Homo sapiens: one gene and its partners. The protein of the gene in region 1 purifies or fractionates together with the protein of each later gene. This does not show direct contact. Each region holds a gene or a part of one and is shown in the gene's direction. Other genes may lie near its edges.

What was found.
Region 2: the proteins of ZNF324B (region 1) and PTCD1 purify together in Homo sapiens (affinity purification with mass spectrometry; 2 studies listed by BioGRID and IntAct, with this or other methods). This does not show direct contact.
Region 3: the proteins of ZNF324B (region 1) and RRP12 purify together in Homo sapiens (affinity purification with mass spectrometry; 2 studies listed by BioGRID and IntAct, with this or other methods). This does not show direct contact.
Region 4: the proteins of ZNF324B (region 1) and NOP14 purify together in Homo sapiens (affinity purification with mass spectrometry; 2 studies listed by BioGRID and IntAct, with this or other methods). This does not show direct contact.
Region 5: the proteins of ZNF324B (region 1) and ZNHIT3 purify together in Homo sapiens (affinity purification with mass spectrometry; 2 studies listed by BioGRID and IntAct, with this or other methods). This does not show direct contact.
Region 6: the proteins of ZNF324B (region 1) and DGCR8 purify together in Homo sapiens (affinity purification with mass spectrometry; 2 studies listed by BioGRID and IntAct, with this or other methods). This does not show direct contact.
Region 7: the proteins of ZNF324B (region 1) and HELZ2 purify together in Homo sapiens (affinity purification with mass spectrometry; 2 studies listed by BioGRID and IntAct, with this or other methods). This does not show direct contact.

Annotation. Positions count from the first base shown.
Region 1 is NC_000019.10:58,450,267-58,454,614, forward strand, and holds the start of ZNF324B (zinc finger protein 324B), read left to right. Parts: upstream 1-1,355; 5' UTR 1,356-1,438; exon of another isoform or gene 1,439-1,487; intron 1,488-1,529; exon of another isoform or gene 1,530-2,516; intron 2,517-2,920; exon of another isoform or gene 2,921-3,000; intron 3,001-3,429; coding exon of another isoform or gene 3,430-3,435; coding exon 3,436-3,556; intron 3,557-3,961; coding exon 3,962-4,078; intron 4,079-4,348. UniProt on the Homo sapiens protein: May be involved in transcriptional regulation.
Region 2 is NC_000007.14:99,428,785-99,432,573, reverse strand, and holds part of PTCD1 (pentatricopeptide repeat-containing protein 1, mitochondrial), read left to right. Parts: intron 1-2,767; coding exon 2,768-2,986; intron 2,987-3,369; coding exon 3,370-3,471; intron 3,472-3,789. Other genes in the region: ATP5MF-PTCD1 (ATP5J2-PTCD1 fusion protein), read left to right, coding at 2,768-2,986, 3,370-3,471. UniProt on the Homo sapiens protein: Mitochondrial protein implicated in negative regulation of leucine tRNA levels, as well as negative regulation of mitochondria-encoded proteins and COX activity. Also affects the 3'-processing of mitochondrial tRNAs.
Region 3 is NC_000010.11:97,366,766-97,370,554, reverse strand, and holds part of RRP12 (RRP12-like protein), read left to right. Parts: coding exon 1-100; intron 101-280; coding exon 281-388; intron 389-972; coding exon 973-1,130; intron 1,131-3,422; coding exon 3,423-3,514; intron 3,515-3,645; coding exon 3,646-3,789.
Region 4 is NC_000004.12:2,939,399-2,943,187, reverse strand, and holds part of NOP14 (nucleolar protein 14), read left to right. Parts: intron 1-836; coding exon 837-996; intron 997-1,458; coding exon 1,459-1,606; intron 1,607-3,542; coding exon 3,543-3,661; intron 3,662-3,789. UniProt on the Homo sapiens protein: Involved in nucleolar processing of pre-18S ribosomal RNA. Has a role in the nuclear export of 40S pre-ribosomal subunit to the cytoplasm.
Region 5 is NC_000017.11:36,489,510-36,493,119, forward strand, and holds part of ZNHIT3 (zinc finger HIT domain-containing protein 3), read left to right. Parts: intron 1-3,303; coding exon 3,304-3,390; intron 3,391-3,610.
Region 6 is NC_000022.11:20,090,049-20,093,837, forward strand, and holds part of DGCR8 (microprocessor complex subunit DGCR8), read left to right. Parts: coding exon 1-210; intron 211-1,386; coding exon 1,387-1,584; intron 1,585-1,820; coding exon 1,821-1,922; intron 1,923-2,760; coding exon 2,761-2,859; intron 2,860-3,789.
Region 7 is NC_000020.11:63,571,216-63,575,556, reverse strand, and holds the start of HELZ2 (3'-5' exoribonuclease HELZ2), read left to right. Parts: upstream 1-1,317; 5' UTR 1,318-1,373; intron 1,374-2,335; 5' UTR 2,336-3,171; coding exon 3,172-3,449; intron 3,450-4,341. UniProt on the Homo sapiens protein: Can degrade highly structured RNAs through its concerted ATP-dependent RNA helicase and 3' to 5' exoribonuclease activities. Shows a strong preference for pyrimidine over purine residues for its nuclease activity.

The DNA of each region.
Region 1 (4,348 bases):
ATTACCCAGTCTCAGATATGTCTTTATCAGCAACGTGAAAACAGACTAATACACCAGGCATCGTGGCTCCTGCCTGTAGTTCCAGCTACTTGGGAGGCTGAAGTTGGAGGACTGTTTGAGCATGGGAGGCGGAGGTTGCAGTGACCCGAGTATGCACCACTGCACTCCATCCTGGGTAAGAGAGTGAGACCCTGTCTCAAAAAAAAAAAAAAAAAAGTAAAAAAAAATTGCTTGAAATGTTAATAATGCCTCTAAGCATTTGATTAAATCACAATAGTACTTAAGTGTTCTTAAATTCTTTCAAAGCAGGAAAAATTTAAATAAAAACATTCAAAAATTGTCGAGCTATCTTACACTATAGGGATCTACAAGTAGAATCAATTCTGTGGACAGTTATAGCTGACAGTAGACAGATATTTATAGATGGAGGTGGGTATAGAGGAAGACAAAATGAATTAACGTACTTGACATCTGAGAACTGTCTAAGGATCCTAAAAACAAGACCCTCACAGGGAAGCAACAAAGAGAGAATCGTTTATTCTCTGCCAACAACATGGTCAGTCTACATTGAGACTGCCCTGCCTTTTGTTGTTATGTGTCAAAGACACTTAGATTGGTCCAGAGAAAAAAGGAACAAAGCATCCATGTTGTGATGTGTGGGGCAAAGCAAGAACTAGATGGTCTAAGGACAAGCAAGGCTGGGGAATTACCTTCTGCTCGTCCAAGTTACAAGGAAAACAAGTTTTGGGCGAGCGTCCAAGAACAATCACAGAATCAAGACAAATGACAAGCGGGTAGTGTCATTACAGGCTGAGAATTCTTGGTGTAGAGGTTGAAAAACGGACCTTAAACCTTTACGGGACACTGACACACAGAGAGATCAAACCCTCGCCCAGGATGCACAGTCAGTGAGATGCAAAGCTGGGAAGGGAACCCGGAGCTCCAGGCATCTGCTCCTCCACCTACACCTGCCCTACCCGGTGCGTTTTCTCCTCCCTGCTACCTGCTGGTGTTGCCTTCTGGAACCTCCGCAGTTTCTGCTTTCACACCTGCAGGGTTTAGTCTCCAGGGCTGCTTAGGTGGGTGCCAGGAACTGGGAATCCCCAACGCGGGACAACCTGCCGGGCGACTCAACCAGTGCCACGGAGCCCTTGGAAACCCGCGGCAGCTGCGCTACTCCATTTCCAGGCGCCCAGCGCGGCGGCGCTTAGCCGTTGCCATGGAGACTGGTAATGGCCCCGCCTCCGCGCCGAAAAACAGGCAGGAACCACATAACCCAGAAGGCTGTGCGCAAGCGTCTGCGCGCGTATTGGGGCAATGTGAGCTCTGGGGGCTGGACTTCCGGCGTTGGGACTGTCACTTGGCTGCTCGCGTCAGGCCACACCGGTGGTCTGGGCTGTGGCGCGCGGGTCGGGGCCCGAGGCGGGCGGCCAGGAAGGTACGGACCACGAGCAGCCGGCCGCGCCCCCAAGCCTCGGTATCTTCGAGTATGACGTGGTCGGCCCGGGGGCGGTCGGGCCCCGGCGGGAACCACGCGTTCTCCCGCCCCGCGGAAGCCCAGGAGGCAGCGCATTGGGCATTCTGCGCCCATGACTGCCGGGCAGGCTGAGGCGCGGGGCAGCCGCGGGAGGCTGCTGGCGGGGATGGCGGTCCCGGGTGGTCCATGCCTTTCTTCCCTCCCAGTTGCGGGTTCCGCTGGCGGCGGTGGCGCTGACAAGCCCGCGCCGGGGGGGCGGGGGAGTCCCTGCTCACACAGACTGCGCCCCCACGGAGTGAGGCCGCTTCCTAGACCTCGCCTAGTCGTCTTTCCTCTCCCTGCCCTGGGGGGGTTGCGGGGGTCAGTGCAAACTCCTGCGTCCAGGGCACTGGTGAGCTCCCGACTTCCGGCAGCCAGGGGGCTGAGGTCCCGAAGGAGGCTCCGAGGGGAGAGTCCTGCGTGTGCAAAACCTGGGAGGGGAGCCGAAGCCCAGATGCTTCTGGGACTGAGCGCTCTCGATGTGGAGCTGGAGTAGAGGGGATGTGTGCGGCTGCAGTAGCAGGCGAGGGAGTGGGCTTTATCTCGAGGGCGTCGGGAGACATAGAAGTTTTGAACAGAATCAGGACATCCTCTGAGTTGGGACTTTAAAACGGTTCCACCGTTTGTTGCGTGGAGAACAGACATGCAGGGGTGTCGGCATGAAGGGAAGAACCGACTGCCACAGTCTGGGCAGCAGTGGAGGTGGGCGACCAGGTGAATTCTGGTGGATCTGCGGATGCATCAGGTGTGGGCTGTTTGAAGAACTAAGTACCCCATGTTGTTCAGCCTGAGCGCCTGGAAGAAGAGAGCTGCTGTAGATAGAAAGGAGAATTGAAAGGAAAGCAGGTTTCCTTCAGGGGAAAGATCAAGAGTCTGGGATGTCCCAGGTTGGTCATGTCACTGGACCTGACGTTGTTGGTGTCCTGGGCTGAGGACAGGGCCTATAAACTGGACTGAAGAAGGCGATGAGCAGTCAGGCGTGCGGAGTTACAGCTTGAGGGTAAAGAAAACCGGCTGGGGTGCCTGAGGCTATCAGGGGAGGAGTTCGGCAGGTGGCTGAATAGGAGAGGGTGGCAGCAATGTGGGAAAGAAATTGCGGGAGCGCTGAGATCGAGACCATCCTGGCTCACACAGTGAAACCCGGTCTCTACTAAAAATCCAAAAAAATTAGCCAGGTGTGGTGGCGGGAGGCTGAGGCAGGAGAATGGCGTGAACCCGGGAGCCGGAGCTTGCAGTGAGCCGAGATTGCCCCACTGCACTCCAGCCTGGGTGACGGAGTGAGACTCCGTCTCCAAAATAAAAATAAATAAATAAATAAATAAATAAATAAATAAATAAATAAATAAATTGAGGAGGGGGCGCCATGTGGAGGGAGGAAGGGATTGAGTTCCCCTGTGTTCACAGGTTCTTGGGGCTGCACCCCTATGACGACTGGTGGGGATCATCCAGTCCCTCAGGCTGGATGAGCAGCCTGGAAATGTCAGGCAAGCGCAGCAGGGGAAGGTCTCAGTGATGGGCATGCCTGGGGGGTCCACAGCTGGGACTTACACCCTTGCTTATTACAAAAGCAAGAAGGGCACATCTGGGGAGGGTCATGAATGGTCATGCTGAGTCACGAGTGGATATTTGGGGCTGCCCTTGGTGTGGCAGCTAAGGGCCCAGCCAGGGCTTGCTCTAGCCTGCTTGTGTAGGGGTGGCCAGTGGGGAAGTCAAGAAGCCATCTGGGGCCTGGACCAGGAGGGCAGAGGGGAGGGGTCCCAGACAGGTGAGGGAAGTGCCACCTGAAGATAATCTCGGGGTGGAACCCAAGGAAGGAGGGACACTGGGGGAGGTGACTGTTGGGATGGGGAGCTTGGTCCTGGCTCACAGCCATACCTTAGACCATGCCTACCTCCACCTCCCTGCTGTTTTAGGACCTGATGACCTTCGAGGATGTGGCCGTGTACTTCTCCCAGGAGGAGTGGGGGCTCCTGGACACAGCGCAGAGGGCCCTGTACCGCCACGTGATGCTGGAAAACTTCACACTTGTGACCTCACTTGGTAAGGCCCTGGGTGCTCCATGAAAAGTGCACTTGGTGACAATCAGGACTGCCTCTTCACTTCCCTCCTGGTTGATGAGCAGGATCAAATCTGGCCAGGGCCACGTGGAACAAGGGTCTGGTCCTGTAGACACAAAGTTTGGTTGGGTCAGCCACTCCTTGCCGCCCTGTCCAGCTGTGGCCTCTCTCATGCCTGGGCTCAGTCCCGTTGCTTTGGTGCTCTGGGCACAGTTGCTGCTCTGGGGACACATGAGCTATTCCTATGAGCCCCTTGCCCTGTGCTATCTTTAGATTCTCCCAGTTGCACAGATTACTGTCTATTTCCATGAAGCCCTGACTCCTGCTCTCTGTTGGGAGGTGGGTTGTCTTGACCTGGGGCTGGGCTCTCACCTGCTCCTCCTCACAGGACTCTCTACCTCCCGACCTCGTGTGGTCATTCAACTTGAGCGTGGCGAGGAGCCCTGGGTTCCCAGTGGAAAGGACATGACCCTGGCCAGGAACACCTACGGGAGGCTCAACTCTGGTGAGTGGGAGCTCAGGTGGGGTGAACTAAGGACCAACCTGTGGCCAAGCCCATGTCCCTGCTTTTCTGACTCTGGAAACACATCCTCCTCTCCTGCCTCCTACCTGACTCCCTTCTCTTCCATCATCAGCCTCTCCTGGAGGCTGCTGCCTTAGTAGGTGCCCTTGAAGGGAGAGCTCCAAGGGCACAGGAGCTGGGTTCACACAGAAGGGCCTACCTTCAGCTGGGCTGTGTGGCCTTGAACCCTCCACAACTAGCAGCCATTATTGA
Region 2 (3,789 bases), on another chromosome or scaffold:
CTCTTGAGTTCCCTCAGTATTTATTGATCACTATCTCTACCATCTCGGAGAGGGGGATGTGGCAGGACGATAGGGTAATGGGGAGAGGGTCAGCAGGAAAATATGTGAGCAAAGGTCTCTGTGTCATAAATAAGTTTAAGGAAGGGTGCTGTGCTTTGATGTGCACCTACACAACATCTCGTGCATCAAAGAGCAGTATTGTCTCCAGCAGGTCCCACCTCCAGCCCTGAGGCGGTTTTCGCCTATCTCAGTAAATAGAACACACAATCTGGTTTTACACCCAAGACATTCCATTCCCAGGGACGAGCAGGAGACAGATGCCTTCCTCTTATCTCAACTGCAAAGAGGCCTTCCTCTTTCACTAACCCTCCTCAGCACAGACCCTTTATGGGCGTCGGGCTGGGGGACAGGCTGGGAGACAGTCAGGTCTTTCCCTTCCCACGAGGCCATATCTCAGGCTATCACATGGGGAGAAACCTTGGACAATACCTGGCTTTCCTGGGCAGAGGTCCCTGCGGCCTTCCGCAGTGTATTGTGTCCCTGGGTACTCGAGATTGGAGAATGGCGATGACTTTTATCAAGCCTACTGCCTTCAAGCACTTTTTTAACAAAGCACACCCTGCACAGCCCTAAATCCATTAAACCTTGAGTCAACACAGCTCATGTCTCTGCAAGCACAGGGTTGGGGCTAGGGTTACAGTTTAACAGCATCTCAAGGCAGAAGAATTTCTCTTAGTACAGAACAAAATGGAGTTTCTTGTGTCTACTTCTTTCTACATAGACACAGTAACAGTCTGATCTCTCTTTCTTTTTCCTACAGTCCTTTTTTTTTGGAGACAGAGTCTCGCTCTGTCGCCCAGGCTGGAGTGCAGTGGTGCGACCTCGGCTCACTGGAACCTCCGCCTCCTGGGCTCGAGCAGTTCTCATACCTCAGCCTCCCGAGTAGCTGGGACTACAGGCGCACATGCCACCATGCCTGGCTCATTTTGTTTGTATTTTTAGTAGAGACAGCATTTCACCATGTTGGCCAGGCTGGTCTCTTGACCTCAAGTGGTCCACCCGCCTTGGCCTCCCAAAGTGCTAGAATTACAGGCGTGAGCCACCGCACCCAGCCCATTACATCTATTTTAAAAAACTATTATTTTTGGCCAGGTGCGGTGGCTCACACCTGTAATCCCACCATTTTGGGAGCCCAAAGTGGGCGGATCACGAGGTCAAGAGATTGAGACCATCCTGGCCAACATGGTGAAACCCTGTCTCTACTAAAAATACAAAATTTAGCTGGGCGTGGTGGCACGTACCTGTAGTCCCAGCTACTCAGGAGGCTGAGGCAAGGGAATCACTTGAACCCAGGAAGTGGAGGGAGGTCGTAGTGAGCCGAGATCACGCCACTGCACTCTAGCCTGGCGACAGAGTAAGACTCCATCTCAAAAAAAAAGAAAAAAAACTAATATTTTTATTGTTTTTATTTATTTTATTTTATTTATTTATTTTTTTGAGACGGGAGTTTTGGCTCTGTCACCCTGGCTGGAGTGCAGTGGTGCGACCTCGGCTCAATGCAACCTCCACCTCCCAGGTTCAAGCAATTCTCCTGCCTCAGCCTCCCGAGTAGCTGGGATTAAAGGCGCCCACCACCATGCCTGGCTAATTTTTTTGTGTTTTTTGTAGAAGACGGGGTTTCGCCATGTTGGCCAGGCTGGTCTCGAACTCCTGACCTCAGGTGATCTGCCCACCTCAGCCTTCCAAAGTGCTGGGATTATAGGCGTGAGCCACGGCACCCAGCCTTGTTACTGTTTTTGGTGACTCACCTGCAGTGTGTCTCCCTTCTTGAGTGTAAGCTCAGTAAGGATAGGCTGTGCCCGCTCTGCTAACCCCAGGGCTGCTGCTGGGCAGGTAGTGAGTTGTCAGTGCACCTCTGTGGAGTGCAGCAATACACGCAGAGCTTACATCATCCTCAAAGTAGGGACTGCCCTCTTTGCTTTTCAGATAAGGAAACTGAGGCACAGAGAGATGAAGGGACATGTCCAAGGCCACCCCACTTGAATGCACCGGGGCTGGGATTTGAGCCCCAGATGGCCTGACTCTAGCAGGGTTCTTTCTGCCGCTGAGCTGCCTATCGCCTGCCTTTGTCCAGATGGCCCTTCTCTGGCCAATAGCGAGTGCTAGGCTTCACCACGGATTGTCAACCCTGAGCACATGCCTTAGTCCCCTGGAGGCTCAGTAAGCTGAGTGTCACTCAGCTCCGGGGCTTGTGACTTACCAGATCAGGTGGCCCTGAGAATGTGCATTGTGCCACTGGTTCGGGGCCACCCCTAGAGCACTGCAGTGCATCCTCCCACTTGCCACAGGCATGCCTGGTTTCAAGGTGATGGTGTCATCCCCATTTTCGCGAGGAAGTGCTAACTTGCCCGGGAGCCCTCAGGTAGTAAGCACTACAGGCCCTTTCCCCTTGACGGGGTGGCCTGAAGGTGGGGACATCAGGAAGACCTTGCTGCCAGGACCCCAGGCCTGGAGTGGGCTGACAAGTGCCCAGGGCAGGGTAGCTCCTGTTTGGTACATCTGGGTGTGTGGGCTCAGTTTTCAGAGTCCCTTCAATGTGTCTGAGTTTGGAGAGCTGGGCTCTGATGTGTCCATGGCTCTGCCTTAGAGCCTGGCCTGGTGGATGCAGTGACGGGGTCCTCTCCAGCCTCAGCCTCCTCTGGGGCAGCTGCTCACCTGTGCGTCCAGCTGATCCCGGGCCACCACTGAGCTTCTTCCATCTCCACAGATGAAAAAGCGGGACCTGGAGCCCTCGGACGCCACCTACACGGCCCTGTTCAACGTCTGTGCCGAGTCCCCCTGGAAGGACTCAGCTCTACAGAGCGCCCTGAAGCTCCGGCAGCAGCTGCAGGCCAAAAACTTCGAGCTCAACTTGAAAACATACCACGCGCTGCTGAAGATGGCTGCCAAGTGCGCAGACCTTAGGATGTGCCTCGATGTGTTCAAGGTGGGGCTTCCCCTGCCGTCCTGCTCCCCTTCATGGGGCTGGTCCCACGTGTCAGGGGCAGGGCTGTGGTGTCTGTCTCTCCTCATGTAGGAAGGCTTAGGGAGGATGAGACAGCCGGTATTGGGCCCTGGGGTTCACAGATGGATCTGATGAGACCTTACTGGAGATTGTGTATGCCACCGTGTGCTGTGTCCTGCTTTGTGCACTCGAGGGAAGGCTTCCTAGAGACAGGGTCTTGCTATGTTGCCCAGGCTGGTCACAAAACTCCTGGCCTCAAGTGATCATCCTGCCTTGGCCTCCCAATGTGCCAGGATTACAGACATGAGCTACCATGCCCAGCCTGCTGCAGGTTCTCAGTGGGACGTCTTTGTTCCCTCCCCCAGGAAATCATCCACAAAGGGCACGTGGTCACAGAGGAGACCTTCAGTTTCCTGCTCATGGGCTGCATCCAAGACAAGAAGACAGGCTTCCGGTACGCCCTCCAGGTATGTCCCTCCCACCCCACCTTCCTGCCCTGCTTCCCCGGTGCCAGAGGTGCAAAATGGTGATCCTGTGAGCACCCACGATGGCCCTGTGCTGAGTATTTTTATATCTGTGCTCTTTTCTGAAAACCCAGCAGCCACTGTAGCCTCCATTCTACAGATGGCAGGGAGAGGAGGCCCTTGGAGATGGAATGAGGGTGGCCCCCGCCCCTCCCACCCTGCTTTGCAGTCGGCTTAGCCCCTCTAAACTCACCTTCCTTGAAAGCCTGCCACACACTCACCTGGGGACTTGTTCAACCCTCCCACACCCCCATTAGCACT
Region 3 (3,789 bases), on another chromosome or scaffold:
CTGTGCACCAAGGAGGTGTCGGTGGGCGCACGGAAGAACGCTTTTGCACTGCTCGTGGAGATGGGCCATGCTTTCCTAAGGTTTGGCTCGAACCAGGAAGGTGAGGCCCAGGGGGCTGGGGGTGGACACTCTGCTCATAGACTGGGTGGGGGGAAGCACCCCTCAAAAAAGGTGGGGAGAGCTCTGTGCCCTGGCCCTGGGCAGGCTGCTCCTCTCTGGCCCTCAGCCCCCCTACCTGGTGGGTCCTTCCTGCTTGACCCACGTTGGTCTCTGTCCCCAGAGGCCCTGCAGTGCTACCTCGTCCTGATCTACCCTGGCCTGGTGGGCGCGGTGACCATGGTCAGCTGCAGCATCCTGGCCCTGACCCACCTCCTTTTCGAGTTTAAAGGTAAATGCTTATTTCCTAGAAGGCCTGAGAAGCCCTCAGATTAGGAAGATGCCCAAAAGGTCAGGATAAAGTGGCTCCTGGAACTGGGAAAAGGTGCCTGGAGGAAGTAAGAAAAGCCACACCCAGCCCAGTTTGCCTCCCTGTCTCCCTTCCTGCGGGTCGCTGCCTCCCGCCCTTGCGGCTATGCCAAGGCACCTTCCTCAGGTCTGTCCCCACGTGTGACTGTGCAGTCCAGTGGCCCTGCATCCCATTGTCAGAGTGGTTAGGAGGTGGTTAGGGCTGATGCCTGGATTTTAGTCCTAGTCCTGCCTCTTGGCAACCACATGAGACCTAGAACAGCTTGATTAGCCTCTTAGCACCTCAGTTTCTTATCTCTAAAATGGAAGCAAGAAATAGCACCCACCTCAGGGTGACGAAAGGACCCAAGACCACTCCATGGAGCGTGATTGGAACCATCCCGGGCATACGGAAAGGCTCTCAATGTCAGCTTTTACTGACACTTGAGTGGCTGTTTTCCAGTGGGGAAGGTTTGGGTCTGAGTGGGGTCCTGGGTGTCTTAGACAGTGACCCCCTCACTGCCACAGGTCTGATGGGGACCAGTACAGTGGAGCAGCTGCTGGAGAATGTGTGCCTGCTTCTGGCCTCCCGCACCCGTGACGTGGTCAAGTCTGCACTGGGCTTCATCAAGGTGGCAGTGACTGTCATGGACGTGGCGCACCTGGCCAAACATGTGCAGCTGGTGGTGAGTGTCCCCGTTCCCCTTAGCAGGTAGCAGGGTGGCCTCTGAGCTGTTGGCATGGACCTGGCAAGCTTCGAGGCCAGCAAGTTTCAAACTATTTTTTTTGTAGCCAGAGGTCATTAAGGAGCCCTAAAAGGGACCATAGGGGAATGCCTGTCAGGTGGAGGCGAGGAGGGGGCACACTGCCCAGGTGGCTTTCTTCACCCCAGAGCCCTACATGGAAAGCAACAGGGGCTCTTCAGGGCAAAGGCCCATGGGCAGGGCCACTCCTCATTTTACAGATGGAGAAACTGGGCCAGAGATTTTCCAGATCATGGGACTCAGACGCTGGGCTCTCCCTCCACAGGACCCCCTCATCTTGCCTTTTTTTTTTTCCCATCTTGCATTTTGACCTTGCTGGTTAGAGGCCATTCCTTTGGGTCCCCTGCTGGGCTGCAGAAGGATCTGAAGAGCCCCTTGGTATAGGGTCCCTGGCCCTCTCCTGCCCAAGAGAAGCCTTGCCCAGGCTGGCGTAGGCTTCCAGCCAAGCTGTGCACTGTACCTACTGCCTCAGTTTCCCATGTGTGACTGGCTTGAGTCACATCAGACCTCTGGGTCCCTCTTGCATATTTTCTTTGGGTCTGGCCTTGGGTTCAAGATAGGAAGGGACAGATGAGAATCAGCATGCCCTCCCGCTGCCCTCGGAGCCTGCAGCCTACTAGGGACCAAAGGTGGGGAGAACAGCTAGAGCAGTGATCCATCATGGAGTTATTCGAATTTATACAAGCCCTGGCCGGCTGCAGTGGCTCACACCTGTAACCCCACCACTTTGGGAGGCCAAGGCAGGCAGATCACTTGAGTTCAGGAGTTTGAGACCAGCCTGGCCAACATGGTGAAACCCCATCTCTACTAAAAATACAAAAATTAGCTGGGCGAGGTGGCAGGTGCCTGCAATCCCAGCTACTCGGGAGGCTGAGGCAGGAGAATCACTTGAACCTGGGAGGCGGATGTTGCAGTGAGCCAAGATTGCACCACTACACTCCAGCCTGGGTAACAGAGCAAGACTCTGTCTCAAAAAAAAGGGATTTATAGAAGCCCTTCCAAGAGTGGTTGGGGAGGCCAGGAGCGGTGGCTCACACCTATATTCCTAGCACTTTGGGATGCCAAGGTGGGTGGATCACTTGAGGTCAGGAATTCGAGACCAGCCTGGCCAACATGGTGAAGCCCCATCTCTACTAAAAAATACAAAAATTAGCCAGGCATGGTGGTGCGCGCCTGTAGTCCCAGCTGTTCATGTGGCTGAGGTGTGAGAATTGCTTGAACCTGGGAGGCGGAGGTTGCAGTGATCCGAGACCATGCCATTGCACTCCAGCCAGGGTGACAGAGCAAGACTCTGTCTCAAAAAAAAAAAAAAAAAAGCCAGGCACAGTGGCTCACACCTGTAATCCCAGTACTTTGGGAGGCCAAGGTGGGCGGATCGCCTGAGGTTGGGAGTTCAAGACCAGCCTGGCCAGTATGGTAAAACCCTGTCTGTACTAAAAATACAAAAATTAGCCAGGCGTGATAGCAGGCACCTGTAATCCCAGCTATTCAGGAAGCTGAGGCAGGAGAATTGCTTGAACCCAGGAGGTGGAGGTTGCAGTGAGCTGAGATCGTGCCATTGCACTCCAGCCTGGGCAACAGAGCGAGACTCCATCTCAAAAAAAAGGAGTAGACGTGGACCCTATCCCCTAGCCGGTTTGGGAGTCACTGGAGATAAGAAGATCTGCCACCTGCACATGTAACCCAAACTGGGCCAGATGAAGGCTTAAGAGGAATCCAGCCAGAGCAGAATGCAGTGAGATGGAAGGGACATAGGGGACCAAGAGAAATCTTGGGGTGCTAGGGGCAAAGCGGGAGCCGCAGCATTAGATGAGTCTGGGCTGAACTCCCACCTCTATGGCCATTTAGCAAACACTTTATCCTCTGTGCCGCCGTGTCCTCTTCTATAAATAGGGGGTGATAGCATGTATCTCAGGGGTAGTCCAAGGATTCAAGGAGAGGATATATGTCAAGTACCAAGTGCTGTTGAGAAGACTAAAGCTCTCATCCTGCGAGGGTGCTCAGGCCTGTGTCCTGAAGGAGGGTGCAGGGGAAAGATGGGGCCTGCCCACCCGAGGGAAGCATGACTGGGCCAGGGTGTGGGCCAGGAGCAGGGCCGCGCTAACCCTCCCCTCAGCTGGGCTTGATCATGCTGCGTCCCTGGGCTGGACAGCAGTAAAGGGGGCGCAGCATGGAAGGCTCGCCTCCCTGAAAGCCTGGTGCTCTGTCCGGCAGATGGAAGCCATTGGGAAGCTTTCAGATGACATGCGGCGGCACTTCCGCATGAAGCTTCGGAACCTGTTCACCAAGTTCATCCGCAAGTTTGGGTCTGTGCACTGAGCAGGGGCGGGGGTAGGGCAAGCGAGGGGCCGAGGATTTCCAGTCCTACCAGGGACACTACATCTGGGTCGTGCTGTCTGGCCAGTGCCTCTCACCAGCCCTTCCTTGCCACCTCCAGATTTGAGCTGGTGAAAAGGCTGTTGCCCGAGGAGTACCACAGAGTCCTGGTCAACATCCGGAAAGCTGAGGCCCGGGCCAAGAGGCACCGAGCCCTGAGCCAGGCTGCCGTGGAGGAGGAAGAAGAGGAGGAGGAGGAGGAGGA
Region 4 (3,789 bases), on another chromosome or scaffold:
TTCTGCCACCACCTGCCTCCCAAGGCTCCTGTCTGTCAGGCTCGGTGCTGGGCGCCAGAGGGGCGCGGCCGCCCACATGCTCCCTGCCTCCGGGAGAGCCACCTGTAGATAGCTGCAGTCCCACGTGTGAAGGGCTGTGACGGAACAGGCTGGGCACAGGTGGAGTCAAGGAAGGGGTGGGCATCTCGGCTTTGGGGAAGTGTGGGGCGGGGCCTGACCCACGCCTTCCCCTCTCGCTTGGCCCGGCACCTCTGCCCCACTGTACCCACTCTCCACCCCTCCCCGTGTAGCCACACCCTCGGCCTGGATTGCCCTTCTCCGTGGCGAGTGAATTGACTCCTGCGTCCTACAGGCCTTTGCTGACGTCTGCCCCTCAGGCCTCTCCCGCCCTCCACCGTCACCCCCGACTGACTCTCCTGTCTCCCTCCTGCCCCTCCACTTTCCTTTCTCGTGTTCTGTCTGGTCCATTTGCTCCTCTGGGTGCTGTGCACTGCCTGTCTCCCCGACAGGGGCAGGGACTTCAGTCTGTTCCCGGATGTGGCCTGAGCGCCTCATCAGCCCCATGTGTGCCTAGTAGGCCCCAGGAAGTCTGTGGCCAGCAGGCCTCTCAGGCAGGATCAGGCACTTGGCTCTCACCGCGCCCCCTGCCAAAGCTTTTCCCCTCCCCTGAGGTGTCCCTGCCCACGCTGAAACCCTCAGTGTCTGGCACAACCCAGAAACATAAAAATCGGTGTGCGTCTGTTAGAGGGTGAACTTCCACAGGCTCGGTGCCGCAGAGCCTGCTGGGAGCCCAGTAATGTTCAGGCCATCTCTGTCCTGTCGCACTTGGAATTCAGGTTCCACTCTGGTGCACCCTTTCAGAGCGCTTGGGAAGAACTCGGAACTGCTCGTGGTGTCTGCTAGAGAGGATGTGGCCACGTGGCAGCAGAGCAGCCTCTCCCTCCGCTGGGCGAGTAGACTGAGGGCCCCAACTTCGACAGAGGCCAATCACATCCGGTATGTGAGGGGACCCCGCTTTGGGGCCTGTGCCCTACAGCGTCCCCAGAGGCAGGAGAAGCCACTCGTGCTTTCTGATGTGCTGTTCTTAGTGAACTTGCCGCCCGGCCGTTTGGTTTGATGGAGGCCGAAAGCCTTTCTGAGGCATGTTGGCTTGCTGTCCCTTTTTCTTTTCATTTTCAAAATACATTTGCTTGATTTCACAAATCATAATTTGGAACCAAAAATGGAGCCGCCCCATCCCAGCTGGCGCTGCGGTTCCCACAGCCTCCCCTCCTGCGTTAGGCCTGACCCTGAGCCTGCCTTGCCCGTGGTTGCATGGGCCCAACCCTGGCCGGCCAAGGTGGCCACACTGGAGTTTTCAGCCTAGTGGAAGTGGGGAAGTTCATTTTTGCCACGTTATTGGTTTTGTCAGTGACAAACAGAACAAGTTGGACCTCCTCTTGCCTCCTGCCCTCACAGACTGTCCTGCCTGGCTGTGGGCCTGGCCCTGCTGAAGCGCTGCGTGCTCATGTACGGGTCCCTGCCATCCTTCCACGCCATCATGGGGCCTCTCCAAGCCCTCCTCACGGATCACCTGGCGGACTGCAGCCACCCGCAGGAGCTCCAGGTGAGGCTTCCCGGCCACTAGGGTGCTCTGCCTGGGCTCAGACATGTCCCTGAGCTGGGGCCAAGCTGGTGGCAGTCAGTCATTTGATGCTGCAGCTGTAAGTCAACACCATCTTTGCAAAATCACAAATATGAAGGGAAGTAAAATCATAAGAGTGGGCAGTGACGGTGAGCAGTGCTGGGCTGGAGTAAAGCAGATGCTGCATCTCAGGCGGCAGCTGGGAACTGTCGCCTTGTGTGCTTCCTCCAAGAGGCCGCACGGAGGGTGCACCAGCGCCCAGGGGTCAGCCCCTGCCAGGCCTGGACAGTCAGCTCTGAGCCGCGCTCTGCAGTCCCGATGGGTTTTCCAAGGATGGTCTCACTATCCTGCACAAGGTGACAGGAAGCCCCAAGGGACAGTCTCAGCTGGACCCAAGAACAAGTCTTTGATGGCACATCCTGTCCTCTACAGGCTGCTCCAAATTCACCTATGGCCTACCCGCCTCCCTGCCTTTCACCCTGACCCTGACAGGCTGTACCCTGCATCCACTTCCTGCTTGACATGGCTGTGGCTTGTGCCTTTCATCCTGCCCCAACCCTGCCCCTTATTGGCCCGCACCAGCCCAGGATGCTGCTGGAGCCGAAGGCATCAGTGCCATCTCCGCAGCTACCCCCACAGGACCGTCCCGCACCACCAGCACAGCCCTGGCAGCCTTGCCTCGTGCCTTCCCCTCATGCGCTCCGGCCTCCTCGCAGGCCTGGCTTCGTCTCTGGAGTAGTTCTCTGCACCTAGAACTCCCCACAGCCATGCTGCTCGCGCCCACACCCTTGGGAAGCCAGGCCTTCCCTGGCCCACACTGTGCCGTGCTCCCTGCGTTTTGTCTGTGGTGCTGACCCCCGGGCACGTTACACCGTCCTTGTCTCTGCCCCACTAGGATGAGAGTTCCATGAGGACAGCAACTCGGCTCGTTCCGGCCAGGTCCCTGGAGCATAGAGCAGATAAGCTAGCTATCACAGACTCCGTCGCCTGGTCAAAGGCTGATGAGGATGAGATGTGAGCCCTGCCCCTTATCCTGTATCCACTTCCTGCTGGTGTGGCTGTGGCTTGTGCCTTTTATTTAAAAGAATTTGGGTTGGCCTGGCCGAGGGGCACAGCAGGTCTCATGGTCTCGGTAGACTGGGCCAGTCAGGCCCTTGAGTTTGGTCTCCATGGAGACGAGGCATTCCGGCACTCGAAGGTTACATCCACATGGGCCCAGGAGTGGCTGTATCTGTGGGTGCAGCCAGGGTTCCAGGACACACCTGTGCAGGAGAAAGCGGGTAGGACCAACCTCAGTGAACTACCTTTCGGGAGATTCCTCAGAAGCCACCAGCCAACTCTTCTGGAAGCCAAGGTCTTGGTGAAAATGGGTCTTAACCATCTGGTTCTGTTGGCTTGAAAATAAGGTCAAACTGCCAAGACTGGTGGAAACCCTGCCCCGCCTAGCACCCAGCGTCAGTTTGCACACTGGGCTCTAGCATGCACACGGCCCCCCGCGGCAGAAAGGGGTTCTCCTGTGAGCCTTCTCACGAAGCAAGTGGCTCACGGCCTTTCGTGCCAAGTTTGTCTGGGAAAGAGGGGTTCTGTTGACGTTTCTGGCTGTGAGGAGCACAGGCTATGGTGACCTCCAACTCCCCAAGTCCCCTCCTTTCAGAGAGTGCTCTCAGGGGCCAGCCCACGGCCCTCCCTCTTCAAGAAGACAGTGGCTTTACTTCGTTCCGGCTGTGCCAGGACTTGAGCAGCCACAGCCTTGGCTTACCCCCCCGCCCACCGGTAGGCGCACAGCAAGGGCACCATCCTGCTGCAGGGAGCTCGCAGCACTGTCCTCACGCTGCCTTGACACCACAGAACCCGTGCGTGGAGCTCAGGGCACGCAGCAGGTGAGTCATCGCAGAGTCGGGGATTTCGTGTTTTTCAGGAGCTGTGTCAGAGCACACTGACCGAAATGGAAAGCCAGAAGCAGCTCTGCCGGCCGCTGACCTGTGAGAAGAGCAAGCCTGTCCCACTGAAGCTTTTCACACCCCGGCTGGTCAAAGTGTGGGTGCTGGCAGCATCTCCCTGGGAGGCCAGGGCTGTGGGCTCAGTGGGAGCTGACGGGGGGCGTCTGCCAGTTCTGCAGTTGAGCAGATGACTACGGAGTGAAGCCACACTCCCAAGCAGGCTCT
Region 5 (3,610 bases), on another chromosome or scaffold:
ATTGTGGTCTTGACTTGCATGTCCCTAATAATTAGTGATGTTGAACATTTTTTCATGTACTTGTTGGCCATTTATATGTCTTCTTTTGAGAAGTGTCTGTTTGGCTCATTTGCCCATTTTTTTTTTTTTTCTTTTTGAGACAGAGTCTTGCTCTTGTCGCCCGGGCTGGAGTACAGTGGCGCAGTCTCTGCTTACTGCAACCTCCGCTTCCAGGGTTCAGGTGATTCTCCTGCCTCAGCCTCCAAAGTAGCTGGGATTACAGGTGCCTGCTGGCTGATTTTTGTATTTTTAGTAGAGACAAGGTTTCACCATGTTGGCCAGGCTGGTCTTGAGCTCTTGACCTCAGGTGATCCACCTGCCTCGGCCTCCCAAAGGGCTGGGATTACAGGGGTGAGCCACCATGCCCGGCCCATTTGTCCACTTAATTTTTTTTTTTTTTTTTTTTTGGCTGTTGAGCTCCTTGTGTATTCTAGATATTAATCCTTTGTCAAGTGAATATTTTGCAAATATTTTCTCCCATCCTGTGGGTTGTCTCTTCATTCTATTGTTTCCTTTGTTGTACAGAAGCTTTTTTGTGTAATAGAATTCCATTTGCCTATTTTTGCTTTTCTTGCCTGTGTTTTTGAGATTTTATTCATAAAATCTTTGCCTAGACCAATGTCCTGAAGCATTTCCCCTGTGTTTTCTTGTAGTAGTTTCAGGTCTTACATTTAGGTCTTTAATCCATTTTGATATTTATATATGGTGACAGATAAGGATCTAGTTTCATTCTTCTGCATATGGTTATTCTTACAGTTATCCTATTTTTCCAGTACCATTTATTGAAGAGTGCTTTTTTCCCCAGTATATGCTCTTGGTGCCTTTGTGAAAAGTCAGTTGGCTGTAAATGTGTGAATTTATATCTGGGTTCTCTATTCTGTTCCATTGATCTATGTGTCTATTTTTATGCTAGTACCATGCTGTTTAGATATTATAGCTTTGTAGTATATTTCGAGGCCAAGTAGTGGTGATGCCTCCAGCTTTGTTCTGTTTGCTCAGGATTGCTTTGGCTATTGGGGGTCTTTTGTGGTTCCATATTAATTTTAGAATTTTTTTTTGACATTTCTGTGAACAGGATCATTGGTATTTTGATAGGGATTGCATTGACTCTAGATTACTTTGGGTAGTATGGTCATTTTAATATTTATTTTTCTTATTGGTGGATATTTACATTAATTTTGCCTTTGTTGCTGCTATAGGCAGTGTTAAAGTGGTATTTAATAAATAATTTTTATCAGAAATTTCTAATAGCCACATCTGTTGTACACTTTTCATTTGTCTTTTTTATTTTTTTGCAACAAAGTCTTGCTCTGTCACCCAGGCTGGAGTGCAGTGGTGCTCACTATAGCCTTGACTTCCTGGGCTCAGGCAGTCCTCCTACCTCAGCCTCCCAAGTAGTTGGGACTGCAGGCGTGTGCCACCATGCCTGGCTTATTTATTTTTAATTTTAATTTTTGTGGAGATGAAGTCTCACTGTATTGCCTGGGCTGGTCTTGAATTCCTGGGCTCAAGTGATCCTTCCACCTTGGCCTCCCAAAGCGTTGGGATTACAGACGTGAGCTACCCATGCTCAGCCTGTCATCTTTCTTGATTCCCATGAATATCTGCTGTGTTTGGCTTTTTCTTTCTTGATATTCTTTGGAGGCTGGGAAGATACCGCTCTGTGGTATTCTCTCCTCCCTTTCTCCCTTCGAAGTCCTAACCAGGCCTGACCCTGTTACAGCTTCTGAGGTCAGATGAGATAGGGTGCATTCAGGGTGGCTTAGCTGTAGACTCTCGTTTTCTTTTTTTTCCTTTTTTCGAGACAGGGTCTTGCTCTTTTGCCCAGGATGGAGTGCAGTGGTGTGATCACAGCTCATTGCACCCTTGGCCTCCTGGGCCCAAGTGATCCTCCCACCTTAGCCTCCTGAGTAACGGAGACAAACTTTATCTATTTTTCGTAGAGACAGGGTCTCACTGTATTGTCTAGGCTGGTCTTGGACTCCTGGGCTTAAGCAGTCCTCCTGCCTCAACCTCCCAAATTGCTGGGATTACAGGCAGGAGCCACTGTGCCCAGCTTCTCCTTCCTTTTGCTAGATCTCTCTCTTGAAATGTGGTCCTTGACTTTTATTCCTAGGTAGGTGATCTCTCTTTCACTTTAAACTTTTTTTTTTCTTGCTGACATCCAACTGTTTAGCTCCAGCCTCTTTTTGAGCACCTTAGACACAAATGTATTTTGGGGTCAGGTACAACCCAGAAAATTCACCTCTCCTTCAGTCCCTCCTGCTGTGTTCCTTACACATATAGCATAGCCGTAAAGTTAGACCCGGATTCCAAATCTGCCTCTGCTACTTACTAGCTGTGGACCCCAATGGACAAGTTTATTACAAGAAAATTTAATCCTTTCATCTGTAAGTGGAATTAACAGTCTCCATGTCATGGGGGCTTCGTAAAGGTTCATTGAGCCACTATGTATCTCACTGTGTACCTGGCACAGTGCTCGGCACTTAGTCACTGGCAGCTGTTGTAACTGCCACCTACATGACTAGAACCTTTCCGTAGCATATTGTCAAATCTACATTTTAAGTCTCTACAATCTGGTCCTGCCTTTATGTCCTCAGAACCCTTTCCTGTGACTTCATGCTCTGTTGATACTGTCACCCAGGCTGGAGTGCAGTGGCACAATCACAGCTCACTGCAGCCTTGACACACTGGGCTTAAGGGATCCTCCTGCCTCAGCCTCCCAAGTAGCTGAGACCACATGTGTGTACCACCATGCCTGGATGATTTTTTTTATTTTCTGTAGAGACATAGTCTTGCTAGGTTGCCCAGGCTGGTCTCAAACTCCTGGGCTCAAGTGATCCTCCCACCTTGGCCTCCGAATGTTAGGATTACAGGCGTGAGCCAGCACAGCTGGCCTTCTGTTGACTCTGTAAGTTCTTTGGTGGTTTTGCCCCTAGTTTTATCCCATCTGGTATCTGGTTTACAGCAGCTATTTCAAACACCTCAGTTAATTGTGGTGAGAATTTTGTAAGATTCGGCAGGGTAGGGAGGATGGGGACAGGTTCTTGGGGTGCATGAATGAGTCCTGCTTTCTCAGCCTGCTGGCGGTTTTCCTTAATCTCTCTCTTGCTTTGATCTCTCACTTCTTCCACATTCCTGGGCACCCACCCACATCCCTTACCCCAGACACTTGCTTCCTACCTAGATGCTACCTTGGTAGGGAGGTGCAGCCTTGTCGCTGAAATGGAGGTAATGTGGGCCTGGGATTTGTGTCTTTTTCAGAACAGTGCAACCCTGAAACTCGTCCTGTTGAGAAAAAAATAAGATCAGCTCTTCCTACCAAAACCGTAAAGCCTGTGGAAAACAAAGGTGGGTTGGTTGACTTCAAACAAATCTACAAGGGACTTCACATAGAATAAGTCGAAGGAAAAGGGGAGAGTGGGGCTGGTCAGGGAATCCAGAACAATAGCTTCATTGGGAAGGAACAGCTTCCTTAGCCTTGAGCATCAGGAGTGGGGCCATGTCATCATGGGTGATATTGAGGCAACAGCCTGAAAGCAGTATTCAGGAGAAGAAAAATGGGCAGAAG
Region 6 (3,789 bases), on another chromosome or scaffold:
AAAGCAGTGACCTCACCCCTAGTGGGGATGTGTCCCCCGTCAAGCCCCTGAGCCGATCTGCAGAGCTGGAGTTTCCCCTGGATGAGCCTGACTCTATGGGTGCTGACCCGGGGCCCCCGGACGAGAAAGACCCACTAGGGGCTGAGGCAGCCCCTGGGGCCCTGGGGCAGGTGAAGGCCAAAGTCGAGGTGTGCAAAGATGAATCCGTTGGTGAGTTTTTGAAGGACTCTTCCCTTCTTGCCTCCTGGGACCCATGAGCTTTGTTTTTCTAATGAAGGCCATAATTGTTCATAGTTCCTAGTTGTACTTGTGAGCAAGGGGCTGTGCACCTCCACTGTTGGTGTGGCTGAAAGGCTTGTCTTCCTGTCCTTGCAAGAACCTGCCTGGGTGCAGCACCCTAGGCTCCTGTCTGTGGGCTCTGTGGTGTCTGCATGGCTGAGGCTGCTGGGGAGATGGCTGCTGGCACTGGCAGTGGGCCGTTTTCTCTCTGGTTGTTTGTATGATCTTTCCCTAAGTCTTGCTTTTTCAGTAGGATGTGCTCATGTGGCATTGTTTTGATTTGTCTTGATGAGCTCAGTGAGCCTCTTTAATCCATGACTCAGTGTTGGGAAACTGTCACCATTCTGTGGATAGTTCCCTCTTCAATCCTGCAATTGCTTGCTGGATGTGTACTGGTGTTTCCCATTCTCTCTTCCATGTCTTTTAGCCTAGTCCCGCCATTTAAGTCTTAGTTCTCTCTTCAGGTGTGGCAGGTCTCTGTGAACCCACCTGCTGGATTACTTTCAAAGAGCACTTTCCATTTTCTAGGTTTCTATTTGTCTGTACATCACTACCCAGCCTGTCTCATAACTCCGTGGAGTGTGGGGTGCCCTAGAAGAGCCTGTGATGGGGGCTGTTGCTGAGGATGGGGAAGTGGCCCGGGAGGAAATGTGACAAATGCGAGGCCCTGTGCAGGGAGCTGCCTGGGTGTGTTGCTGACTACAGAGGTGGCCAGGATGGCCAGAAGGAAAAGAGTGAGGTGGTCAGAGAGGTGGCGGGCGCATGGAGCCCGGGTGCTGCTGGCATTCGGGCACCTGTTTTGATACAGGGAGGAAGTCCCGAAGGCCATCTGACTTTTTTAAGCTGTCTTTTTTCCTTTTCATTTTTGTATTCTTCCTGCCCCAAATAAAGTAAAAGAACATCTCAGAAATTCATCCAGAAGGGACCTGCCAGAATAATCTGAGCTGGTGTAGGGAGGCCTTCATTCTTTGCTTCCCTCCCCTTTGAAAGGGACGGGGAAAGGAAATAGTGTCATGTGGCCTGGGCCTGCCCCATGCACTGGGCTGTGAGAACCTGACTCCTATGTTGGAAGTTAAGTAATTTGTTTCTCTGGTAAATCTGGGACAGATCTCGAGGAATTTCGAAGCTACCTGGAGAAGCGTTTTGACTTTGAGCAAGTTACTGTGAAAAAATTCAGGACTTGGGCTGAGCGGCGGCAATTCAATCGGGAAATGAAGCGGAAGCAGGCGGAGTCCGAGAGGCCCATCTTGCCAGCCAATCAGAAGCTCATTACTTTATCAGTGCAAGATGCACCCACAAAGAAAGGTATAAGCCTCTGCATTTTAACATCAGCAGACTGGTTATGCTGTTATTTCTAATGTGATGTGTTGAGGGCATGTTTTATGAGTTGCATTTCGTTCAAAGTTTATGTTTATCCCATGAATGCAGGGGTCTGCCACATTCACGGTCGTGAGCCCCTAGTTACTGACATGGTAACAGGAAGCTGTGTGCTAGCTTGTGGCACTGCTTCACACTTGCTGAGATGGTTCTTTTTGTCACAGAGTTTGTTATTAACCCCAACGGGAAATCCGAGGTCTGCATCCTGCACGAGTACATGCAGCGTGTCCTCAAGGTCCGCCCTGTCTATAATTTCTTTGAATGTGGTAAGTCTAACCTTCCCCATTTCAGTCCTAAAGAATCACAAGGTGTAACTTTGGTCAGGGCTGGGGAGGCAGGCGCTGACCGCTAGCCCTACTCTACTGGAACGGGAGGAAAGGGAAGGGTAGAGAGCAGCGTGCTGCAGATGGGTGGCTTGTTTCCTGGAGCCGCGCCCCATCTGAGTGGGTGGCTCTGCTTTTCCCTTCCAGTCTGTCCCCTCTCCCCACCTTCCTCTTGTCCTGCCCCATCTGCCTTGCTGGTTTCTGATCCTGCGTTGTCATGGACAGCCTTATTGCGAGCAAGGCCTCCCCACTGTGCACTGGGTCCTTTCCCTGGTCTCCTGGTGCCCCTGGGTGTCTGAAGGGTTCTTGGGCATGCATTTCCCACCAGCTCTGTCTTCCTTGGGTGCCCTCATCACACCTTTGTGAAGACCAGTCTGTCTTCCCCTTGGAAGCTGGAGCCTGGGGGTCACTCATCCTTTGAGGTGGTGTTTCTTTGGCAAGCCACATCTTGTGCTTTCCCATTCCGGCAGTCCTGTGTCCGTCTTTCGTAGACCTTGGTCCCTGTCGTAGGAGGCTCTGCCCCCAGCCTCCTGCTGCCCCTCTGGCTCACCATCTCCCACGTGCCTCATTTCCCTCCACTTTCCCAGCTGTGCCCTTTGCTGCTGCTTGTCTGCTGCCCGTCTCCAGTCCCAGGGAGCCCCAGGTCTCTGCAGTCAAGCACAGGCCCACTCTCTGCAGGGACAGCCCCTGACTGCGCCTTGTCTGTCGGTGTGGGCAGACTGTGCACACGCTTTTGATGTCTTGACTCGTATGTTTTAAAACAAGTAATTTTAATTTTAAGAGAACCCAAGTGAGCCTTTTGGTGCCTCGGTGACCATTGATGGTGTGACTTACGGATCTGGAACTGCAAGCAGCAAAAAACTTGCGAAGAATAAAGCTGGTAACGTGCTTGCTTGGGTGTCAAAGATACGTGCTGCCTGCTGTGTCTGCCTCGCTGCTTGGTTAGGGAGGGGCTGAGCAGTGGTGACAAGTGGGGGATGTGGGTGGGGCATGTTTATTTTATTTATGTAATCATCTACTTTGATTTTTAAAATTACATGCTCATTGGAAAAGACTCAAATAGAGCAAAATGTGAGACTTAAAAGTAGAAGGCCTCGGCCGGGCGTGGTGTCTCATGCCTGTAATCCCAGCACTTTGGGAGGCTGAAGTGGGCAGATCACGAGGTCAGGAGATCGAGACCATCCTGGCTAACACGGTGAAACCCTCTCTCTACTAAAAATACAAAAAATTAGCCGGGTGTGGTGGCGGGCACCTGTAGTCTCAGCTACTCGGGAGGCTGAGGCAGGAGAATGGCGTGAACAAGCGAGGCAGAGCTTGCAGTGAGCTGAGATCGTGCCACTGCACTCCAGCCTGGGCGACAGTGCAAGACTCTGTCTAAAAAAAAAAAAGTAGAAGGCCTCTCTACTGAGTGACAGCTGGGCCAGTATGTCCCTCCCTAGTCCTGGCCCTGCACATATTCAGGGGTGTGCCTAGAGCCAACTGGGCTGTGCTGGGCACATGCTGTAGTGCTTGTTTGTTTTTAAACTGAGCAGCATGTGGGCATGCCAGGAGGGAGGAGAAGCGGGCCAGCATGCTGTTGGCATCCTCCCCCAGTGGTGCTGGCTCTTACCGGCACTATTTCCTGAGTCCTCCCACTCCATGTTTGGGCCTAGCCACACAGAACACCTGGCACAGCGCAGCTCTGGGAAGGCTGTGTGTCCTGGCGAAGACCCACTGCCCTTTTGGACCATGCCCTTGCCGTTTGCATTCATGCCCTGCATTCGTGGTAGTTGACATTCTTTCACAAAAAGCCATTTGCCTCAGCGTCCAG
Region 7 (4,341 bases), on another chromosome or scaffold:
CCTGTCCAGCCTTTCTTGGTGATGTGATGCTTTTCCAAATGGACTTGAAAGTCAGTGTGTCCACCATGCGACTGCAGGTTAGTTTAGGAGGAACTCACGTCTTTGTGTGGTGTTGAGCCTCTCCATCCAGGAACACAGCGTTCCACACAAATTCTCCCAGCGTTCCACGCACATGGACCCTGCTCAGCGCCCGGCCCCTGGGGCTGCTATTGTCGAGGGCCTGCCCTCTCCCAGGAGCTCCAACGTGATTGGTCTGCGGAGAGGCTCCCTGGTGGTTGACGGCCCACCCAGCCGACCTCCCGAGGTCGCTGTGAGCCCCCAGCCTGGCCCTCCCCACGAGGTGCTGGCCTTGGGTGGCAGCCTTGCTTCCTTGTTTCAGGGGCAGCATCACTGTCCGTTATCTACTGCTGCAGAACAGATCGCCCCAAAGCTCAGGGGCTTAAAACAACACAGATGTTTATTTTATTTATTTATTTGTTTTGAGATGGAGTCTTGCTCTGTTGCCCAGGCTGGAGTGCAGTGGCGCAATCTTGGCGCACTGCAACCTCCACTTCCTTGGTTCAAGCAATGCTTCTGCCTCAGCCTCCCGAGTAACTGGGACTACAGGCGCCCGCCCCCACCCCTGGCTAATGGGACGTTTATTTTAAACATAGACATCTAACAGCTGGGCGTGGTCTAGGTGGGAGGGTTAGGCCTGGGGTCTCCCTGAGATGGCAGTAAGGCTGGGGCTGGGACTCGAGCTGCAAGTGGGCTGGAGGCCTCAGCTCCTCTATGGGGCCTCCCCACAGGGCTGCTGAGGGCCCAGAGCCAGTCCAGAGAGCCAAGAGCCAGGCGTGCTGACTCTGGGACCCGGCGGCCACTTAGCCATTCCTGCCATATCCTGGTTGGTGACAGAAGGGACTTGGGGTCCCAGCAGCACCAGGGCCACGGGCAGGTCCTGCCTGTCAGGGGACCCAGGCTTCCAGGTCAGCTGTGCCTGGATTTCTCCAGGGGCTGATGGTGGAGTCACCAGACCATCCTGCCGTCCAGGGCCGGGCAGGGTCTCACCCCTTCCGCCTGGCACATCATCGGGGCGTCTCTGGTGTGTGAAGGGCTGGACGGGGCGTGGGGCCCTGGAGGGGTGCGGGAAAGGACCCCCACCCCCAGCCGCCTCCGCCTTCGACGGCGCTGGCCCTTCAGGGAGGGGCGTCCTCTGCTCGCTGGCGCTTCCCGAGGTTCCCTCGCAGCGGGGGCCGAGCTGTCGCTGGAGGCGGGGCAGGGCGGGGCGGGGCGGGGGGCGGTGAGGTAATTTCCGCGATCAGCGTCAGTGCCCGGGCCAGAATCGAAACTGAGAGCTCCTGGGCAGGCTCGGCAGGGCAGGCAGCTCCAGGAGGGTGAGCGCGGGGGTCCCAGGGCGGAGGGGCGGGGGCGCGGGGGTCCAGGGGCGGCTCCAGGAGGGTGAGCGCGGGGGTCCCAGGGTGGCGGGGCCGGGGGCGGAGGGGGGGGTCCGGGAGGGTGAGTGCAGCCGGGGGCGCGGAGTCCCGGGAGCCACAGACCCAGCCCGGGGCAGTGCAGCCCGTCCAGGACCAGCACCCTCCGCAGCAAGACCCAGCGCTGTGGTCTCTGCACCCACTGGAGCGCAGGATTTTGGGGTCTCGGCTCCCGTCCTTTCTGGATGGCAGACTCGGATGTTTTCTCAGAGGGGTCCGCGGGGAGTGCCGGGTTCTCATACTGAAGTCTGCCTCCAGTCTGTTGCTTTTAAACTTACTCTTCTTGTAGCATCCCAGCTGCGGTGGGGACCCGGGGACCCATCTCTTCCTGGCACCCTGAGCTCTGGTGGGCACTGTACCCTCCTCTCCGTGAGGCCCCTCCCCAGGTGCAGATGTGGAGTCCTCTTTTCCTGGGGGCCAGTGGTCATTCAATAGAAAAGGAGGTGCTGTGTCCTTAGAAGAGTCAGGAGCCTGAGGCCCTGGGGTGCACAGGACCCCTGGCTGGGGCAGAGGGGTGCGGCCTCCTGGGGGCGGCACTGTGCCAAGGGCTCTGCCCCCTCCAGGGCTCCACAAGCAGTCACCTTGGCTCCTTCTAGGTGGGGCCTGAGACCCTTCAGGAGGGAGGGTCTGGCTGTGTCCGGGTCAGTGAGCCCTGTACTCCCTGACAGGACACAGCTACTGCCAAGGCCTCCACTTGGGCGTCAGGGTGGGGAGAGTCCCAACTCCTTGCTTGGTGGAGAGGCCTCTGCTTGGGCATCAGGATAGGCAGATCCCCAGCTCCTTGCCTGGTGGAGAGGCCGTGCTTCTGAGCTGGGCCTGGACCAGATGTCCTCTGGCCTCAGTCTCACCTGCTCCTTCTGTCGCAGGCTTCGAACCGTGGCCAACAGTTCCAGTGGACTGCGTGGACCCGTGAGCTCAGGAGCCTCAGACGCCTCCCTGGAGAGCCAAGCTGGTGTTCGAGGTGGCGCCTCCAGGGTCCACCCTGCTGCCCAACAGCCCCGCGGCCACCAGAGGGCCGTCCCTGGCCCGGCTGTGTGCCCTGGTGGACCTGTGTCTGGGCTGCTCCCGCTGCACCCAGCGGCTCAATGAAAGCACCTACGTCCTCCGTAGGGTGGAGCATGACTGCTCCCGCGAGATCCTGCTGGCCCGCTTTAAGCAGGCCACCAAGAGCAAGGTCTGGCGCGTGGTGGGCTGCCGGCCCACCTTCCCAAGGCCCCTGTGCTACCAAGTCTGCCACTACTACAGCCCTGGGCTCGGCTGCCGGCGCCACCGAAACCGGTGCACCTTTGCCCGCAGTCGCGAGGAGGCCCTGGTCTGGACCTTCGAGCGTCAGCACAACCTCCAGCGCCTATGGCTGAAGGCGGAGGTGCAGGGCAGCGGGGCCCAGGGAGGGGCAGGCCGGGCGGCCGACGCCATCCTTACGGAGTTTGGCGGCCGCTTCGAGCTGCTTTGCTCCCTCTGCTTCAGGCGCTGTCCCCCATGCATCTGTCGCGTGGACCCCCAGGGGCAGTGCCCTGAGCACGGAGCCTGCCCCTCCCTCCTGGCCCACGTGAGCGCCGAGGGCCGCCGCAAGCAACAGTTTGTGGTGGTGAGGCCGCGGCCCCGGGCCGGCCAGCCTCCTGCCTACTGCAGGTTTGTGGGGCGTGGGCAGCCGTGCTGGCGTGGGGAGTCCCGCTGCCAGTTTGCACACAGCGCCGTGGAGATGGCTGTGTGGGAGGCCGAGCAGCTGGGTGGCCTCCAGCGGGGGGACCTGCTCACACCCCCTGCCCCTGATGGCGACGGGCGCACGGCCCCCCTTGGCCAGCCCCCTGGGGCCCAGCTGTACTGCCCGGCCTGCTTGGTCACCTGCCACTCTCAGGAGGCCTTCGAGAACCACTGCGCATCCTCGGAGCACGCACAGATGGTGGCCTTCGACCAGGCCCTGCCCTGGGAGCACCGTTCCCCACCCCCGGGACTCTCCAAGTTCGAGCTCTGCCCAAAGTAAGGATACTCGAGGCAGGAGCTTGGAGTAGGGCAGGAGCCCACCATAGGCAGAACCAGAGGTTCCCAGGAGCTTGGAGTGGGGCAGGAGCCCACCACAGGCAGAGCCAGAGGCTCCCAGGAGCTTGGAGTAGGGCAGGAGCCCACCGTAGGCAGAGCCAGAGGCTCCCAGGAGCTTGGAGTAGCGCAGGAGCCCACCACAGGCAGAGCCAGAGGCTCCCAGGAGCTTGGAGCAGGGCAGGAGCCCACCGTAGGCAGAGCCAGAGGTTCCCAGGAGCTTGGAGTGGGGCAGGAGCCCACCGTAGGCAGAGCCAGAGGCTCCCAGGAGCTTGGAGCGGGGCAGGAGCCCACCACAGGCAGAGCCAGAGGCTCCCAGGAGCTTGGAGCGGGGCAGGAGCCCACCGTAGGCAGAGCCAGAGGTTCCCAGGAGCTTGGAGCGGGGCAGGAGCCCACTGTAGGCAGAGCCAGAGACTCCCAGGAGCTTGGAGCGGGGCAGGAGCCCACCACAGGCAGAGCCAGAGGCTCCCAGGAGCTTGGAGCAGGGCAGGAGCCCACCGTAGGCAGAGCCAGAGGTTCCCAGGAGCTTGGAGCAGGGCAGGAGCCCACCACAGGCAGAGCCAGAGGCTCCCAGGAGCTTGGAGCAGGGCAGGAGCCCACCGTAGGCAGAGCCAGAGGTTCCCAGGAGCTTGGAGCGGGGCAGGAGCCCACCGTAGGCAGAGCCAGAGGTTCCCAGGAGCTTGGAGCGGGGCAGGAGCCCACCACAGGCAGAGCCAGAGGCTCCCAGGAGCTTGGAGCGGGGCAGGAGCCCACCACAGGCAGAGCCAGAGGTTCCCAGGAGCTTGGAGCGGGGCAGGAGCCCACCACAGGCAGAGCCAGAGGCTCCCAGGAGCTT